Regions from separate parts of the Homo sapiens genome. Here region 1 is linked to region 2. The links come from fine-mapping of genetic effects on gene expression. Tissue or cell type: whole blood. Region 2 holds a variant in brackets; the other region holds the start of a gene. All regions are shown on one strand. Distances are between the middles of the regions.

Region 1 (8,101 bases), 45 kb before region 2:
GGGCTGAACTGATGTATGGAAGGTGGTGATCTCTGAACTGGTCTAGGAGGAAGAGGCAGGCACTTGAGGGGAATGTCCTGGCTGAGGTTTGGAGGCAGGCAGAGCACTGAGGGGAGGGTGAGGCATGGCCTGGGCAGCCTGAGAAGTGTCTTCTTGGCACTCCTTGCCTGACATGGTCTGCCAAGAGTTGGGCCAGGTATAGTGACTGTCGTGCCTGTGCCTGTGAGATAGTCACAGTGGGCACATGGTATGTTGGGGGTCCCAGATATGGGCCCCAGACCTGTTTTTATTTGCCCATATCCATCCTCCTTAACTTTTGAATTATTTGCCAATATTTTAAAAGAGAGAGTTTCAACAAAGAGTCAATTTTCTTTTCTTTTTTTTGATGGAGTCTCGCCCTGTCACCCAGGCTGGAGTGCAATGGCGCAATCTCAGCTCACTGCAACCTCCACCTCCCAGGTTCAAGTGATTCTCCTGCCTCAGCCTCCCAAGTAGCTGGGATTACAGTTGCGTGCCACCATGCCCGGCTAATGTTTACATTTTTAGTAGAAATGGGGTTTCACCATTTTGGCCAGGCTGGTCTCGAACTCCTGACCTTGTCAGATAAAAATGCATGTAGAATGATTAGGACAGAAATCATTGACCTTGTGATCCACCCACCTCGGTCTCCCAAAGTTCTGGGATTACAGCCGTGAGCCACCACCCCTGGCCTCTTTTTTCTTTTCTTTTCTTTTTTTTTTTTTTGAGACAGAGTTTCACTCTTGTGTCCCATGCTGGAGTGCAGTGGTGCGATCTTGGTTCACTGCAACCTCCGCCTCCTGGGTTTAAGTGATTTTCCTGCCTCAGCCTCCCAAGTAGCTGGAATTACAGGCGCTCGCTACCATGCCCGGCTAATTTTTGTATTTTTTAGTAGAGATGGGGTTTCACCATATTGTGCAGGCTGATCTTGAACTCCTGACCTCAGGTGATCCACCTGCCTTGGCCTCCCAAAGTGCTGGGATTACAGGCATGAGCCACCGTGCCCAGCCCTCAATTTTCAGCTTCTCTTGAAAATCATACTACCTTTCACTACTGGGTTTACTTCTTCATGGTTCCATGGGCTGGAGCTGAGTCGAAATTGCCTTATAGACAGCACAGGGTTCTGCAGACCCCAGCCCACCCACTCCCCTCGTTCTCATCAGTTCCAAGTCTCTGCCCCCTGCAATAGGTAGTAATGGTGGTAGGCAATAGGAATTGTTGCTGCTGTTAGTAGCCAGGAGGTCTGAATGGCCACCAAGCTCTGAGGCCTCAAAGAAGGGGTGGGATCTAGCATGGAGGGGGCTGTTGGGGATTGAATGCCCTCTGAGAGCTACTTCTAATCCTAAGAATTGGGATTCTTGGATCATCGTATCTGTGAAAGGAAGTGAACTGTGTGTGGGTGACCTCACGTCTGCATATGTTATCTCCTCACGGAATCCTTCTATCTCCCACAGGCCTCTTGTTTGAGGTGGGTCACTCCTGTGAAGGCCATGTGTAGCCATGGAATCAGGGCTGAGGAGGAGGTCAGATAACTCTGGAGAATGGAAGGATGAGTTAAGTTGGACCCTGAAAGGTGAGAGGCTTTAGTTGGAATGTTGGGGGGATTGCCCGGGGCTTCTGCCACTGCTTCAAGACCATGAATCTCAGGTCTGTGTGTATCCATTTCTTTCATTCCAAAAGGAGCCTTCTTGGATTGGGCTGTGCCTCAGCTGTCCATGGGGCTCAGGAAGTGATCCTTCTCAAGGTATTTTTCTTATCGATAGAAGCCCTGCATCATTTCTTCCTCCCTCCCCTGAATGTGGAATCATGGAGAAGGGAGGGACAAGAATGTGCCTCCCCATCAGACGTGTCAGCATCCACATGTGTTGCTTCCTCTGCTGGTCCACTTCCCATCACTGGCTGTGAGTGGGAATTGTGCCCCTGTTCTTGGTCCAGGCTCAAGAGCCAGCCTTGGCCTCCAATGAGGCAGGCAGGCCTCTGACACCACCTATACCATTCTGACTTGATTTTCCTATGCTGCCTGAGGCAGGAAAGTCCATGCCTAAACTCTGGTCATAGTGCCTGCCCCACAGTCTAGCTGCCTTTCCCTTTATAAAGTTATTGCCTCAAGTCATGGGCTTAGTTCTCTCCTCCCCTGGCTGCCTGCAGCCAACCGAGAGAGTGGGCTGCCATCTCGCCTGGCCCTTTGTCCCCAGGTTGGCTGGCTTGTGGGGAGGATGGTCTTAAGTACTACTTCCTTCCCCCCTACCCCCCAGTCTGGAAAAAAAATTATCTGGCATCTACCCCAGTTTCCATCTGCTACTCTGTTGATTGGGAGATTGAGCCCATTCCCTGGTCTGCCCTCCTACTCAGCACCTGGTGACCTGGGCCCTATCTAGGTCCTTCTGGGGATGGTTTGGACCCAGACTTCAGCCACAGACAGGAGGCAGCAGTGCCAGGGTACATCACACAGAGAGAAGTCAAGGGTGTGGGTCCTTGAGAAACCACCTGAGTTTCAATCCGTCCTGCCTCTAGTTGTGCGATCCTGGCACTTCACATCCCTTGTCTGTGCCTTGATTTCTTCATTTGTAAAGGGAGGTGACTAATAGCTCCTATCTCATAGGAGTGCGAAGATTGAATGAGTTGGGAGAGGCTATGAGATGGCACAGCACATAGGAACCACAGTGTTAGCAATTGTTATTGCAGTCAGAAAACCCATCTTCGTTCTACCATTTACCGGTTGACCTCGGGCAGGTCCGTCCTTGTCCCTCCCTGTACCTCAGTTTTCTTCTCTGCAGTGGAGTTACGCTCCCTCCCTCAGTGAGAGGAAGAGAGTGGAGGACTGGCAGAGATGAGGTAGGTGAATGTGGGTTATGTGTTGTGAGTTGCCATGCACATGGGCAGTGTTATCATTGATTTTGAATCCATTTGAATTCTTAGTTCCAAAAGGCAGAGACAGGTGATTTCTTAGTTTGCCCTAGCTTTGCATAGAGAGGACAGACACTGAGGGCAATACCTGTCTAGCAGGTGAAACCGAATGTCCATCTTAGAGGCTGGCCTGGGCCAGGCTCCACTGCTGGCTTCAGGGCCACAGGCTTAGGTGCAGGCCTGAGGAGGAGCTCTTAGACTGTCCACAGCCTCCCTCTCTGGGGCAGTGTGCCCCTGTGTATCAGGAGGCTGTTGGCTTCACCCAGTGGGCCAGGAACCTCACTCTGCACTGTCTCTGGAGGTACCTTGAGTTTACCTTCCTGGCCTGCTGGGGTGCCTCAGGACTCTGAGGGAAGAAGGAGGGGACAACTGGAAGCAAAATGTAGAATGGTAAAGCCAAACTTCTTGGTAGCAAAACTTTCCTGGTTCCAGGAGGTAAAAACAACAACCAAATGGTCCTGGCCCCATGGAGCAGGGCAGAGGGCAGAGGGCAGCCAGCCCACCGCCTTTGCTGGTGTCTGCAGTGCGTGAATCGTGTCTAGGTCTGTGAGTTCTGAAGGTTGGATGTTCACCTCTACTCCTTCCTCGGCCTGTCTCCTCTCAGTGCAGCTAGACATCCAGTAAACACTAGATAAGTACTTACTGAGCTGGGTGGATTTTCCATTCATGGTTCCCTGGGGCACAAGTGGAAGTGGTAGGTCTGGGCCCTGTCTGGTCTAGAGAGAGGAGACCCTTTTACAAAGGGCAGGCACGTAGTTCTGAGAGGAGGAGCTGATGGCAGAGCTGGCTGGACTGCTCAGGTAACTGCAGAGGGTCTGGGCCTGGACCCCCCAAGGGAGTCCCCACTGAATGGTCAGGTTGCCTGAGATAGCTGAGCCCTAGGCACTTTGCGGGCAGAGATCCCCTTAAGCTGCTTTGACCCTCCCTCCCCCACAGTGAGTGGGGCACGGGGGATGCTCCCCTCTCTACTTGGGGAAGGGGCCTTCCTAATTATATCCCCCTCCACTCACATGGAAATGAGTTTGGATTTTCTGAGCGTACACCAGCTGGCTTGGGGGGAGGCAGCCCAGAAGGCTGCTGGCTGGGAAAGGGAGGAGAAAGGAGAGGGAGGGGAAGGAGCCAGGCCAAGATGAAAAATTTCCAGTGTTCTCCCAGGCAAAGCAACAGCGGGTCCCTGAGTGCTCCCCACATATCATCGTTGTGCCTGCTGGTAGGCTCAGCAGGGAGCCGTGTCCACTTAGGCGAACGCATCCTCCGAGGACCATAGTCCTCAGGGTGCGAACCACTTAGCTGGCCATAGCAAGGTTGTTGGGTGTTGGACTCCTCTGCGCCCTTGGAGAGAGGTCCTCCACGACTTCTACGCCAATCTTTTTACGGGGTGCGGGGAGTGGAACTGAGGCCCAGAGAGGGGATAGGGCCTGCCGCCCCTGGCAGAAGACCACAAGTCTGGCTTGTCCGCAGCTGGGCTTTCCCCGTAGAGTTGCCCGGGAGAGGGTGGCGAAGGTTCCCCCAGCAGTTCCGCTCTCGCTCAGGAAAGCCAGTGAGGCGAGAAAAGGCTGCGAGGGGCGGGGGGAGGGGCGGGGTGGGGTCAGCGCTGGCTCCGCCTCCTGGCGCTTGGGTCTGCCTGCGGCCGGGCGCTGGCTCAGTCTCGGCTGATTGCCGCTGTCGCTCCCGGGGCCACGGGATGACGCCTCCTCCGCCCGGACGTGCCGCCCCCAGCGCACCGCGCGCCCGCGTCCCTGGCCCGCCGGCTCGGTTGGGGCTTCCGCTGCGGCTGCGGCTGCTGCTGCTGCTCTGGGCGGCCGCCGCCTCCGCCCAGGGCCACCTAAGGAGCGGACCCCGCATCTTCGCCGTCTGGAAAGGTAGGCGGCGCCGCGCGGCCGGTCAGGCGCGGGATCAGACGCTGCGCGGGGCGGGTGCGGAGTGTGCTGCACCCGGAGGGAGTGCGTGCGCGCAGCTCTGCGGGTCCCGGGCTGTCCCCGCGCTGTCCCCGCGTGGAGCGTGTGGGTTTGGGTGAGTGTGTGTGAGTGTACACGCTGGCACACCAGAGCCGGCTGTAACGCTGCGGCGAGCGAGCGGCGGGGGCCGGAGCCCCGGCTAAGTCGCACCAAGTCCCTGGCAGCCAGGAGCCGCAACGCCCGGGCGCCAGGGGAGGGGGCGGGCCCCTCTCTCGGCCCCGAGCCACTCTGGGTCCTCTGGCTCGGGGGCTTCGGCGGAGGACCTTTCCCCGCCTGGGACCCCAACCCGGGTACCCTCCTTTTGAGCTGCGGGCTCTGCTGGCGCGCGGGGCGCAGGCTGGGCCGGCAAGGGGGGCGCGGACCCCTTGCCGCCGCCGCCGCGCTTCGGCAGCGGGAACAAAGACCCCGCCGCCTGCCCCCGCCCCCGCCCCGGCCCGGAGCTCGGGCCAGGCAAGGGGGTGGGCATCCTGCAGCGAGCGGCGGGACATGGTGCGGTGCGGCGGCTTGGGGTACCAGGGCGCTGCCTCAGCAATGCCGGGACCGGCCGCTCCCCCCTTGCCCGCACGTGGCAGTTGTCACCAGAAATCGGCTCCAGCGTTGGGGGGCAGTGCCCGTTGGGTGGGGCACGGCCGTTGGGACCCCCAGGCGGTGGATCTAGGGCGGGGGTGCAGCCTTTAGGCCAGGGTAGATAATAAGAACCTGGGGGACTGGAGTCTCCCCCAGGGCACCTCAGTTTAGACCCTGTACTATGGGACAGAAAGCCGGTTAGGCGGGGGTTTGAGGCTTTCTGCCGCGAGGAACTGATCTCCCCTCCCCTGCATTGCACACAAATGCCTCCCCGCCCCCAGTCCGATTCGGCTCTGTCCCCAAATTTGGCGTGTCTGCGGCCCCCCTGTCGTGATGGTGGGGGACTCGCAGTGGGGGCTGGGGGAACTGGTCGGGTCTGGCCCCACCGGGAGCCTTTTGATGCCTTTGGCAGTTTGCAGGGATTGCGGGAGTCTGAGCATTATCTGGGGCAGGTATTATTAGCAGAGGGGAAAAAAAACCATACACAAAACGAGTGGCCCGAACTGCCGCAGTAGCTGAGGGAATGTGACTTGCCCAAGGTCACTGAGCAGTGTGGGAGCCCAGGTGCAGGCAGGGGCTCTGATCTGGCACAGGACCAGTCCAGGTTCTGGGTTAGGGAGGGGAGAAGGATTTAGGTGGTTCAGGGACCATGAATGAGGTGCTCTGGGGACCAGCTCGGCTACCCAGCCTGAGGTGCTCCTGGAGGAAGCCGAGCAGTGCTGCTAGAGCTCCGGCCGCCTGTACATGGAGGAGGCCTGCACACCCCTCTGCCATCCCAGCTCCAGCCCAAGCTTCCTTTGCCCTCCCAGCAGCTTTGCCTTCCCTCAGTCTCCTTGGCTGTCTTGGACATCATAGCGTGTGGGCACTCTGGAGGGGACAAATGGCCACATCTGAGTGTTCTGGAATCTTTCCCTCCATCAAACCCCTTGCATTTTGACTCTGTTTGCCTGTCCCAAAGTCTTCCCATGACCCCCCACCCCCACCCCACTTAATGCACACCCACTTCTTAGCACTTAATGCATACATCCCATCCTGGGCACTTAGTTCCCACCCTGAGGCTATTTAAAGTTGCTTTCAGTCCTCTTACCCACTTTTCGAAGCTCCCAGCACAGCTCCATGGCCTACCCCCCCGCCCGCAGTTCACTGCTGTAGCCACACTGGCTGTGCCCTCTGCTTAGTAATGCACTGTTGAGCCCCGCTGGCTGGGGTCTGCCAACCGTTCACCAGTCTTGTCCAACGACAGTCTGTGGTCTCCTTCACCAGTGCCAGGTGCCCCACTGGCCAGACAGGCCCTGCCATTCACCTGCCCCCCACCCCCAGGGCCACCAGCTGGTGATGGTGTGCCCGACTGACAGCTGCCTCCTGTCTCCTGTGGGGTGACACATGGCAATCGGACAGGAATGGGCTTGGGTAGGACAAACCCAGGAACAGGGTAAGAGGGGGTCTTTCTGGAAGCCTAGAGCTCTGTCTACCAGTGGTGGGTGGGAGTATGGTGGTATCCAGGAATGACAAAATCAGGGATGGTGGTGGTTCTGGAGCCATTTCTCTATGAGGCATAGATGGGGGTTTTAGTTTTGAGTCAGGACAGCTGTGGGGACTGGAATAGGTATGGAAAGTTCTTTATTTTCTGCTGCTTGGATCCCCAAGTTCTAGAGAAAGATTAAAGCAGGGAACTCTGAGAGGGGCCCAGCCTGCACTGATCAGGGAGATTGCTGCCTCTGCAGCTTGATGAAAGTCTGGCACAGCGTAGCTCAGGCCAGGGAGAGAGATGGGCCATCATGTACCTGCTGGGTGTCCTTGAGCTCCACACTTGTCTTTGACCCTTAGAGCCTGCCAGAGCAAGAAAGGCTGTAGGGATTGTCCCCCAAGGGCTGTCACTGACACATGGGCCAGTCAAGGATGTGCATGTGTGGTCCTGATCTTCCTGTAAGCAGGAACTGTAAGGGAGTAGATTGCAGGTGAGGGCTGGGGCTTAGCAGGAGGTTGGCATGCGTTTGTAAGCTGTGCACCCCTCTTCCATTTTATCAGTGGTTGGAGGAGCTAAAGAAGGCTTGGAACCCCAAGGTCAGAGGTGAACCAGCCTGTCCATGGGGAAACAGAACCCATATCCCCAGTCTCAACCTGCCCGGCTGGTTCTGCCCTCCCTCGCTTTTGTCCAGTGAAACAACGGGATGTTATTGTTGACTTGGTGGCTGCTGGGGAGCCATTCTGGGGCTGCTCCCCAGGGCAGGAGGTTGTTGTTACCTCCTCCAGGGGATGAGGTCACATCTGGGGCTTCCCAAGCATCAGCATTTCCAGTGGAAATCCTTGCCCCCTTGGGGACTTAGATGTGTTCATCACCTTCAAGGTGAACTCCCTCCACAGAGTCTCATGGTGGGGGGGCAATTCCCCGGAGGAGAGGGGGAGTTTCCTAAGCCAAGAGAGATGCTTGGTGAGGTCACCAGGAGCTTCCTACCAAGCTCTGTGACCCCTCTGTCCTGGACAGTGAAGATTCTGAGAGCAGGTCCGGTGGAATGGACGCTGGCACAGGTCCAATGATGACCATGGTATAGGGGAGAGAGCTGGGAGGTCGGGAGCCTGGTTCAGGCTGTGACCTAATTTGCTCTGTGACTGGGCAAGTCTTTGCCTTTTACTGAACCCCAGTTTCCCCA
Region 2 (8,101 bases):
ACACCCCAGCCTGCCTCAACTGATACCCCAGGGGAGGCCTCTGCAGTGCAGCCAGAGAGAGGAGGGTGCAGGGAGGAGAGCAGAGGATGCAGGCAAGGAGGCCAGGGCACGCAATAATTCCCCGGCTTTTCCTGAGAGCGACACAGGAGCCATTGGGAAGCGTCAACTGGAGAGGTGCGATCCAGTGACATATCTGAACAGGACGGCTCTGGCCACTGTGCTGGGAACACCTGGGGGCAGGAGTGAAAAGGTGGGAGCAGGGAGACCAATTAGGAAGCTCCTGCAATGATCCAGATGAGAAATGATGGGGGCCTGGCCCAGGGTGGGGGCGGCAGTCTGACTCTGGGTCTCCTTTGAGATTAGAGCAGTAGGGTTTGCCAGTGGATGGGAGAGGGAGAGGGGTCTGGGATGCCTCGAAGGCTTTTGGTCTGAGCATCAGGAAGGAGAAAGCTGCCAGCCGGGGGTGGGGAGAATGCGGTGGTGGGGGAAGCGGGTTGGGGTGCTGTGGGGAGCGGGAGCTGGAACGGCTGAGATGCTTGTTATACATCCAAGTGGAGTGTCATGTGGGCGGCTGAGGAGAGGCCTGGCTGGGGGAGGGAGGACAGTCAGGCGTCTGTTTGGGTGTGGACAGTACAGACAGCATCTAACGGCTTGAGACTGGATGAAATCAGGAGGGGTGAAAGCTGGTGCCCCTTTCAGCATCTGGGCTGAGGACAAGGGAGAGAGAAGGGAGGGCATCTCAAGGGACATCCTGGAGGTGGTCTGGACCTCAATAGCCAGAGGGTGGGGGGCTTGAGGATGCAGGAGGAGGGGCAGGCTAGGGGTGGGAGAGGTCTGTCTCCCAGGGTGGAGGCAAGGGAGGGGAGAAAGGCCAAGGACAGACCCCTGGGTGGGGCTTCTTTGAGGGTGGCCCCAGGAGGAGGAAGTGGAACCTTGAAGGGGACAGTGATGGAGTGGGCAGGGAGGTGACAGGAAATCTGGGTGGGCGTTTCAGGAGCCAGGAGTATGGGCACATGTTTTAAGAAGAGAAAGAAAAAAGGGTCTGTGCTTTGGAATGGTGTTGAGGAGTGGAGGCAGGGGTGGCAGTGAAGTGCCCCAGACATAACAGCAGAGAGGTGATCAGTGGCCTCGGTGGGATGTTGGGGCAGGGGTTAGATCCCAGGAATTAAGGGGATGGGGAGGAGGGGGTTAATGGAGGCAGTGGGTGGAGACCGTGCTTTCCAGAGCCGAGGGCAGAGGCTGGAGGTGTGGGGGTGTGGGGCTATTGAGAGAGGGGTCCTGTGGGATGGGAAAGACTCAAGCAGCTGGTTTGATGCCCAGAGGCAGCAGTAGGCGGTGGGGGAAGGCTGAGAAGCCAGGGAGGCCAGGCAGAATGTCGGCAGGTGCCCCACAGCCTCAGTGGCTCCTGAGTCCTGAGGAAGGAGGGGAGACAGGCTAAGGTGGTGATGGGAGGGGGAACACAGGCAGAGGCAAGGAGGGGCAGAGGCAGGAGTGGAGGGAGCGTCAGCCGCTTTGATAGATAACTGATGAGACCATGTGGTGAGAAACCCATAGAACACAGGGGAAGGCCTCCAGGTAGGGCAGGCCTGCAGGCACAGAGGTGGAAGCAGGAGTGTACGGGGGCAGGTGGGTGGCCTTGGCAAAGTCATGGAGGCAGGGAAGCCTGTGGGACTTTGGGGAGCAGGATGAGAGGGGCCCAGAAGAGAGAGGCTGGGGCCTGACCATGGAGACCAGCCTGCCAGGCATGGGCATCTGTGAGTTGCTCAGCAGGCTTTGGGTGCTGCTGGAATCTTGGCCAAGCTCTGCCTGATGGAAGATGCCCACTGTCCCTGCGTCTACCTCCTGCTTGGGCTTGGGAGGGCCTCCAGGCGTTCACATCCTCTCCAGGCCTGGCCTCGAGGTCCCAAGAGGGGATAGGTGTCCAGAGGCAGGGTTGGGCTGGATGAAAATTCAGGTGAGAGGACATGACTTTGGTAGCTTGCGCCTCCTGGGAACACCTGGAAGTCACCTACTGAATCATCAGAGCCACTTGCCTGGGATGGAACTAAGGTTTCCTAAGAATCCACCCACTTCCTCTTTTCTAAAAGTCCCTTTCATCACTTCAGGGAAAAGGAACTCGTCTTCATTGACATCCCTGCATGCACGAGAGCAGGTCATGATTTACCTGGTGTGGTGCTCATGATGGCTTCATGGGGAGGGCGCTGTTGTTCTTCCCATCTGACAGGTGGGGAAGCTGAGGCCGTACAGGTACTGTGACCTACCCAAAGTCACATTGTGGAGTGAGTCTGTGGAGGTCACAGACACGGTATGGAGCATGGGGGCCCTGGCCATGGTGTTATCCGTCTCCTGCAGGTGGCTGCCAAGAAGCCTCTGTGACCTGGTAAATTCCTGATCTCTTCATCTATCTTGGGTACCGGTTTGGTTTCCTTGAATGCTTGAGGTTCCTTTCACTCTCACGGACATATGACAGAGTTCTTCCATCTCCCGTCACAGGCACTTCATGCAGGGCCCCACGCTACCATCGTGGGCTTCCTCATTCTTGCTTTGAAGGTCATGACCTCCTGGAGGCCCAGGAAGGGACATGAACCCTAATCCCCCTGGCTGGACCATTGGCTCCCTGAAGGCAGGAACCAAGTCCCAAAGCTTCATTCCCCATTTCTTTTCAGAGCCGACTCAGTCCTGGTGCCTAGGGGTGGATGGTGGGGGTCATCCCAGGAGGCACAGGTCCTGTAAGAAAGGAAGTAGCACCTACTGAGCTTTTGTTTGTTTGTTTGTTTTTGTTTTTGAGGTGGAGTCTCACTCTGTCACCCAGACTGGAGTGCAGCAGCGCGATCTTGCCTCACTGCAAACTCCACCTCCCGGGTTTAAGCTGTTCTCCTGCCTCAGCCTCCTGAGTAGCTGGGATTACAGGCGCACGCCACCACATCCAGCTAATTTTTTGTGTTTTTAGTAGAGACGGGGGTTTCGCCATGTTGGCCAGGCTGGTCTTGGACTCCTGACCTCAAGCAATCTGCCCACCTTGGCCTCCTAAAGTGCTGGGATTACAGGCGTGAGCCACCTTGCCTGGCGTTTGGATGAGCCAGGCTCTAGCACCATCTCCCCCACTCCTTTACAGGAACCCTCTGAGGACGATGTTACTGTCAGCACCCCCATTTTACAGGTGAGGGAATGAAGGTGACATAGCTGGCTTCCAGCCCTCATCTCTGAGCCCAGAGCCTGTACGCTGTACACTCGAGCAGGCAGAGACTGCACAAGCAGAGAGCAGGCCTCTGTGGGTCACGACAGGGGAGCCAGGTCAGCCCCGTCACGCATGGGCCCCCAGCACTGGCTGGCAGCCCCCCTCGGGGGCCAATCCCGAGTCCCCACTGGGAGGTCCAGCAGTGAGTGCTCCATGGTGCCCTGGTGACGGGGGGGGCCTGTGAGGCAGGCCGTGAGCCAAATGTCCCCACACAGCCTATCTCAGGCCACTCACAGAAAAGGAAAGAAAATATCTTGAGATCTTTTCTGGCCTTATCAGCCCCACACAGAGGCCCCGCTGTGGTGTGGTAACAGGGTCCGTGAGTGTGTGCTCA[G/C]ATAAGCGCCAGGCGTTTCTGAGAACCTGCAAGGCACCGTCCTGAGTTCCCCCTCTCTAGAACATTCTTCTTCCACATGCTGCACAACTGGTTCCCTTAGGTCCTCAGGGCATATTCTTAGAGAGGCCCTCCTTGACCAGCCTTCTCAACCCCTTGCCCTCCCCTCCTGCCTCCAGCTTCGTCTCCCTCCTGGACACTCCCCGTCTCTGGGAGCCTCCTGCGGGTTCCTGGCTGGTGTCTGTTTTCCCAGCATGAGGGAAGCTCCTGGAGGGCAAGAGGCACATCTGTCTGGGCCTCGGGATCCTGGTGCTGCTCAGTAATGTCCATTGCCAGAGTGAGGCAGGGAAGGAGGTCTCAGCCCTAAGGTGTTCTTGGCATAGGGCCTGGCCTATGCGTGTATTTTATCTAATCCCTCTAACGACTTTACAAGGCAAAATTTATTATCTTCATTTCATAAATGAAGGAGCTCAGAATATAAAGCAGCTTGTGGGAGATCACAGAGAGTGTTAGTGGAAATTTGAACCAGGGGGGTCTGTGAGGCTCCAAAGAGGTGGGTGATGCCCCCTGAGCTGAAGGGGTGGGGCAGGAGACCCGTCCTAGCCTGGGCTCAGCTGCAGCCTCGCTCTGGGACTGTGGGCCGCAGGCTTCTCTTTGTATACTGGGGCTGGGGTCGCTCCCTGAGCTAAGATCCTGGCTCCAATGGAAGAAAGGTGATTTGCAGTGAGGGGGGTGAGGGGGCTTGGAGCCTCGGAGGAAGGGGTTGAAGCTGGGTAGGGAACAAGGGGCAGGATCCTCCTGAGGTGCCAGCATGGGAAACCGTGGGGGAAGGGCTTGGCCACAGGAATGAACTCAAAAAAGGGATCGAAGCACCCTGAGCTCCGAGCTGGATGCACAGGTGGGTGAGCCTTGGAAGCAGGAGGGACCTCCAGGGGGAGGGCACAGCAGCCGCATCCAGGCTGGGTGTCCCTGGGCCACAAGCTCAGCCTCTCTGTGGCTTTCCCAGCTTCAAGCAGAAGCTCAACCCTGGGAGAAGCGCTCTCTCGGGTTCCCCTGCTCCTAGCCCCAAGGACCCAGCCTGCTAGGTCCCACCAGCCCTGAAGCTAGGTCCACAGGTGCATATGGGCTCCCTCGGCTGCTGGCTTCCTGCCCAGCCCTCCTTCGGCAGCGCTCACTGGCTGGAGAGCAGGGGTCTCCTGAGGGGTGGGGCAGGGGCCAGGGCTTGCCCTCTGATCCTACCCCTAACATTGCCTGGGCCCAGGGCAGGAGTAAAAATGGAGGCCCACATACTATATGTCTGGATATTTCAAAGTTATAAATCAAGCCAACAACCTCTAAATAGGATATGCTCTATCCTCCTACATTAGCAAATACACCTTCATAACACCCTGAGGACCAGGTTTGTACTTAGAATTCTTGGGCTCCTGGAATGCAGGACTGGAATGTGGCAGGCAGAGGCTGAGCCAACCCCAGCTCCCATCCCGGGCTCCCCCTTGGGCAGTGTGTGACCTTCCCAGACCCATCCATATACGTAGCAGTGGCTGCCCCTTGGCCACTCCCGAGGCCTTGGGGTGTGCACACCCGCTGCAGGTCGGTTCTCAGGAAGGCAGGCCCAGCGGAAAGGCCCACGTGGGCTGTGGAGTTAGATTTGGGGCCCTGTGGGCAGGGAATTCTGGGGTTCTGCATTTGGAGGGGGGATGTGGGGCTCGGGTGGACACATTTCCTTGGCTCATGGACTTTATTTCCCTGTTGGAGGGGCAAGGCCAGTGGAAGGCTGGAGTGGAATCCTCTAGAATGCAGGTGCCAGGGCAGGGCTCCTTCTTGCTTGCATCTAAGGGTAATGCTGTCCCCGGGCACTCCCAGAACCTGGCTATGGATAAAATGTCCCTACCCTGCTTACATCTCAGCATCTGAGGTACCCTGGAGCCACACTGGACTTGCCTACCTTGCCCCACCCACAGTCTATGGTGCTGGCATTCCCTCACCCTGGACGCTGGCACTCTTCTCTGGCACCATCCCCTCCCTTCCTGCCCAGCATGCCCACTTTCCTCATGTGGCAGGGGAGGGGGCGCCTCCTGTTCCCCACCTCTCTGGGACCTTGGTCTCCGCCGGTCCATGTGCTCTCTCTGCCTGGTCTGGCTCGGTGGACCTCTCGGTGCCGAGCCCTCCCGCCCTGACCGGGGGCCCTGCGGGCAGTGGGCAGCCCTCCTGGAAAGTGGGGCACCAACTCCACTTCAGCCAATGTTTCTCGCTCTCTCAGCTGAAAAGCCACCGCTTCCCCGAGGCTCCCAGCCCTCGCCCCACCGGTACTAGCAGCTCCTTCCCTGATGCTGTGTGACAGGCCCAACGTCAGGGCTCCCACACCTGGCCAGCTGCCCTGCTACTGGGTGCCTCCCCCACAACACCTGCCACAAGCCAATCAGGGCACTGCAGCCCCTGCTGTATGGGTGCTGTCTGCCTTTGGGCCCAGGATGGGCCCTTCTGGGCTCCCCTGTTCCTGTCCAGTCTCGCCTCCCACCCTGAGGGGGATCATGGCAAAAAAAGTGGGGGTGGTGAGCGGACCCTGCTGTCAGGGTTGAGAGGTGATTCAGAGGCCTTTTCTGTCACGAGTGAAGGGGGTTGGGCCCTGGGGGGAGGTGATGGGGATTTTTGGACTGAGCTGTGCCCCGAGGGCCTTGATCAGCTTTGGCCCCCGAGTATCTGATCAGGAACATGCTGGCTGGAACACTCAGGGAGAGGCCGTCCTGTGCCTCCTCAGCCTACAGTCCACGGTGCTGGCCGCCACCTCAGGAACGACTCCTGCAGACGTGGCCCCTTCCCATGTTTCTTTGTTCACGGCTGGCCTGGTTCTTGCTGTGTCAGCATCGGCACCATCCCCTGCCAGGCATGGCCGCAGTCCCACAACCAGCATGGCTCCCTAGGGAGGACAATGCCGGGTGGGAGGGTCCCGGCTGTGGGGACCAGGTCTGGGCCTAGGCAAGGAGAGTGCCCATCTCATCCTGCCAGATAATGGATAGAGGGAGAGGCACCCACTTGCCCCCTGTGCAGCTGTGGGTTTCCCTGGACAGGCTTGTGCCTGCCACCCTGGGGAGGCCCCTCCTTCTCCTCTCTCCTCATCAGGATGGCCTGGCCTGTCTCCCTCCTGCTACAACGCCCCTCCCTGCTGGCCCAGCAGGGTCCAGGAGCCTGAGCTACTGGGACATACCCAGCTTACAATGGACAATGAGCCCAGATCTTCCTCTGCAAGCCAGCCGGTGCCGGGAGGCGAGACAGGCCAGGTCGGTTACCTGAGGGGGATCTCTGAGCGCCTCCTCTGCTCTGCCCTTTGCACCTGCTGAGCCCATCTCAATGCCTTCCTCCCTCCTTGTTGCCCTTGAGCCCCCCACAGCACCCTTCTCCGGGAAGCCTTCCTGACTGCAGAATTCCCCAGCATGAGTCTGAGTGAAGGACCCATCCCTACAGGTCCCTGTCCTGGGAGTCAAGGCTCCTGGGAGCTGGCCCAGATATCCTTTTAGCCATAGCCCAACCCCCTCCTTGGCTCATGCTAGGCCCTTGGGCTCAGTAGAGACTTTCACAAGAGGTGGGGGCTTGTGGTGGCCACAGCATGCTGGCCTATGGCTTGTGGCTCAGTTGCCCATCTGAGAAATAGGGGCGCTGTCGCTTCCTCTGCCAGCAATGGTCTCCATCCCTCCCCGCCTCTCCGGTTTCCTTTATGGAGCAGCTCAGCTGTTTCCCAGTTGGGAAGCGCCCTGCTCCTCTGGGAAGGGCTCAGGAAGCAATTGAGGATCTGACCTCATGTTTCCGTCCATCCAGCCCTGTCTGGTGCTGCCAGATGTCTGAGGAGCTTCTGTGGGGGAGGGGGAAGGGGTAGGAGATGGGGCTGCAGGACTAGGGGCTGGATCTAACTCCAGCCCCTCTTGGGATGAGGCTGTTGTCCCTTTTGATGGGGAACTGAGGTCCCAAGTTGAGGGGAGCTCAGGCTGCAAAGCTGGCTGCCCGTGCCTTCCTGCTCAGAGCTACCCCTGGCATGTGCTAAGGAATTTGCAGGGGAAAAAATACAACTGGATGCCAGGCCTTGAGGCCACCTGAGGCCCACAGGCTGTGAGAATGCAGGTTTGGGCTGGAGCTAGCACAGAAGCAAGGTCTGCCAGGGGCCAGGAAAGGCAGGAGGCTGACCTCAGCTTGGGGGATGGGGTGGGAGGGTCAAGAGGACAACAGGCGAGGGAGGCAGCGGCTGGTCTGAGTGCCCCGAGGAGCCTGCCCAGGTGGGAGGCTGCCAGCCAGGCCCTGGGAAGGGGACTTCTGGGGCACTGCACCCTCTCTGGGAGTACCACTGAGCAGGGCGGGCAGGAAGGCTGGGCTTATTGCGTTTCAGGACCAGTCACTTCCTCTCTCTGGACCACACCTTTCAGATGAGCTCACCACCTACTTCAGTGCCCAGCCCACCCTGATGTTGCAGGAGCAAATAAGGTGATGAAGACTCTGAAAAGCAGAAATGTGGTATTATTAGTAGACTTCATATTTGACTTGCT

What was found. PIP is the estimated chance that this variant, and not a neighbour inherited with it, causes the effect.
Region 1: SEMA7A starts here. The variant in region 2 is fine-mapped to the expression of SEMA7A in whole blood (TOPMed, PIP 0.96).

What each region holds. Positions count from the first base shown.
Region 1 is chr15:74,430,427-74,438,527 of GRCh38, reverse strand. It overlaps SEMA7A (semaphorin 7A (JohnMiltonHagen blood group)), which reads left to right and starts at 4,570. Exons shown (of 14, transcript NM_003612.5): 1 at 4,570-4,787. The coding sequence starts at 4,610. RefSeq lists silencers at 4,428-4,937, 4,988-5,137, 5,288-5,407.
Region 2 is chr15:74,385,145-74,393,245 of GRCh38, reverse strand. It overlaps LINC02255 (long intergenic non-protein coding RNA 2255), which reads right to left. Exons shown (of 4, transcript NR_146881.1): 3 at 2,165-2,727. Among named protein-coding and RNA genes, the nearest start is that of LINC02255, 10 kb to the right of the region's middle. RefSeq lists a cis regulatory region at 358-912 and enhancers at 4,511-5,051, 5,052-5,591, 5,592-6,133, 6,077-6,396, 6,134-6,674 and 3 more. The variant G/C (reference allele first, on the strand shown) is at 3,573.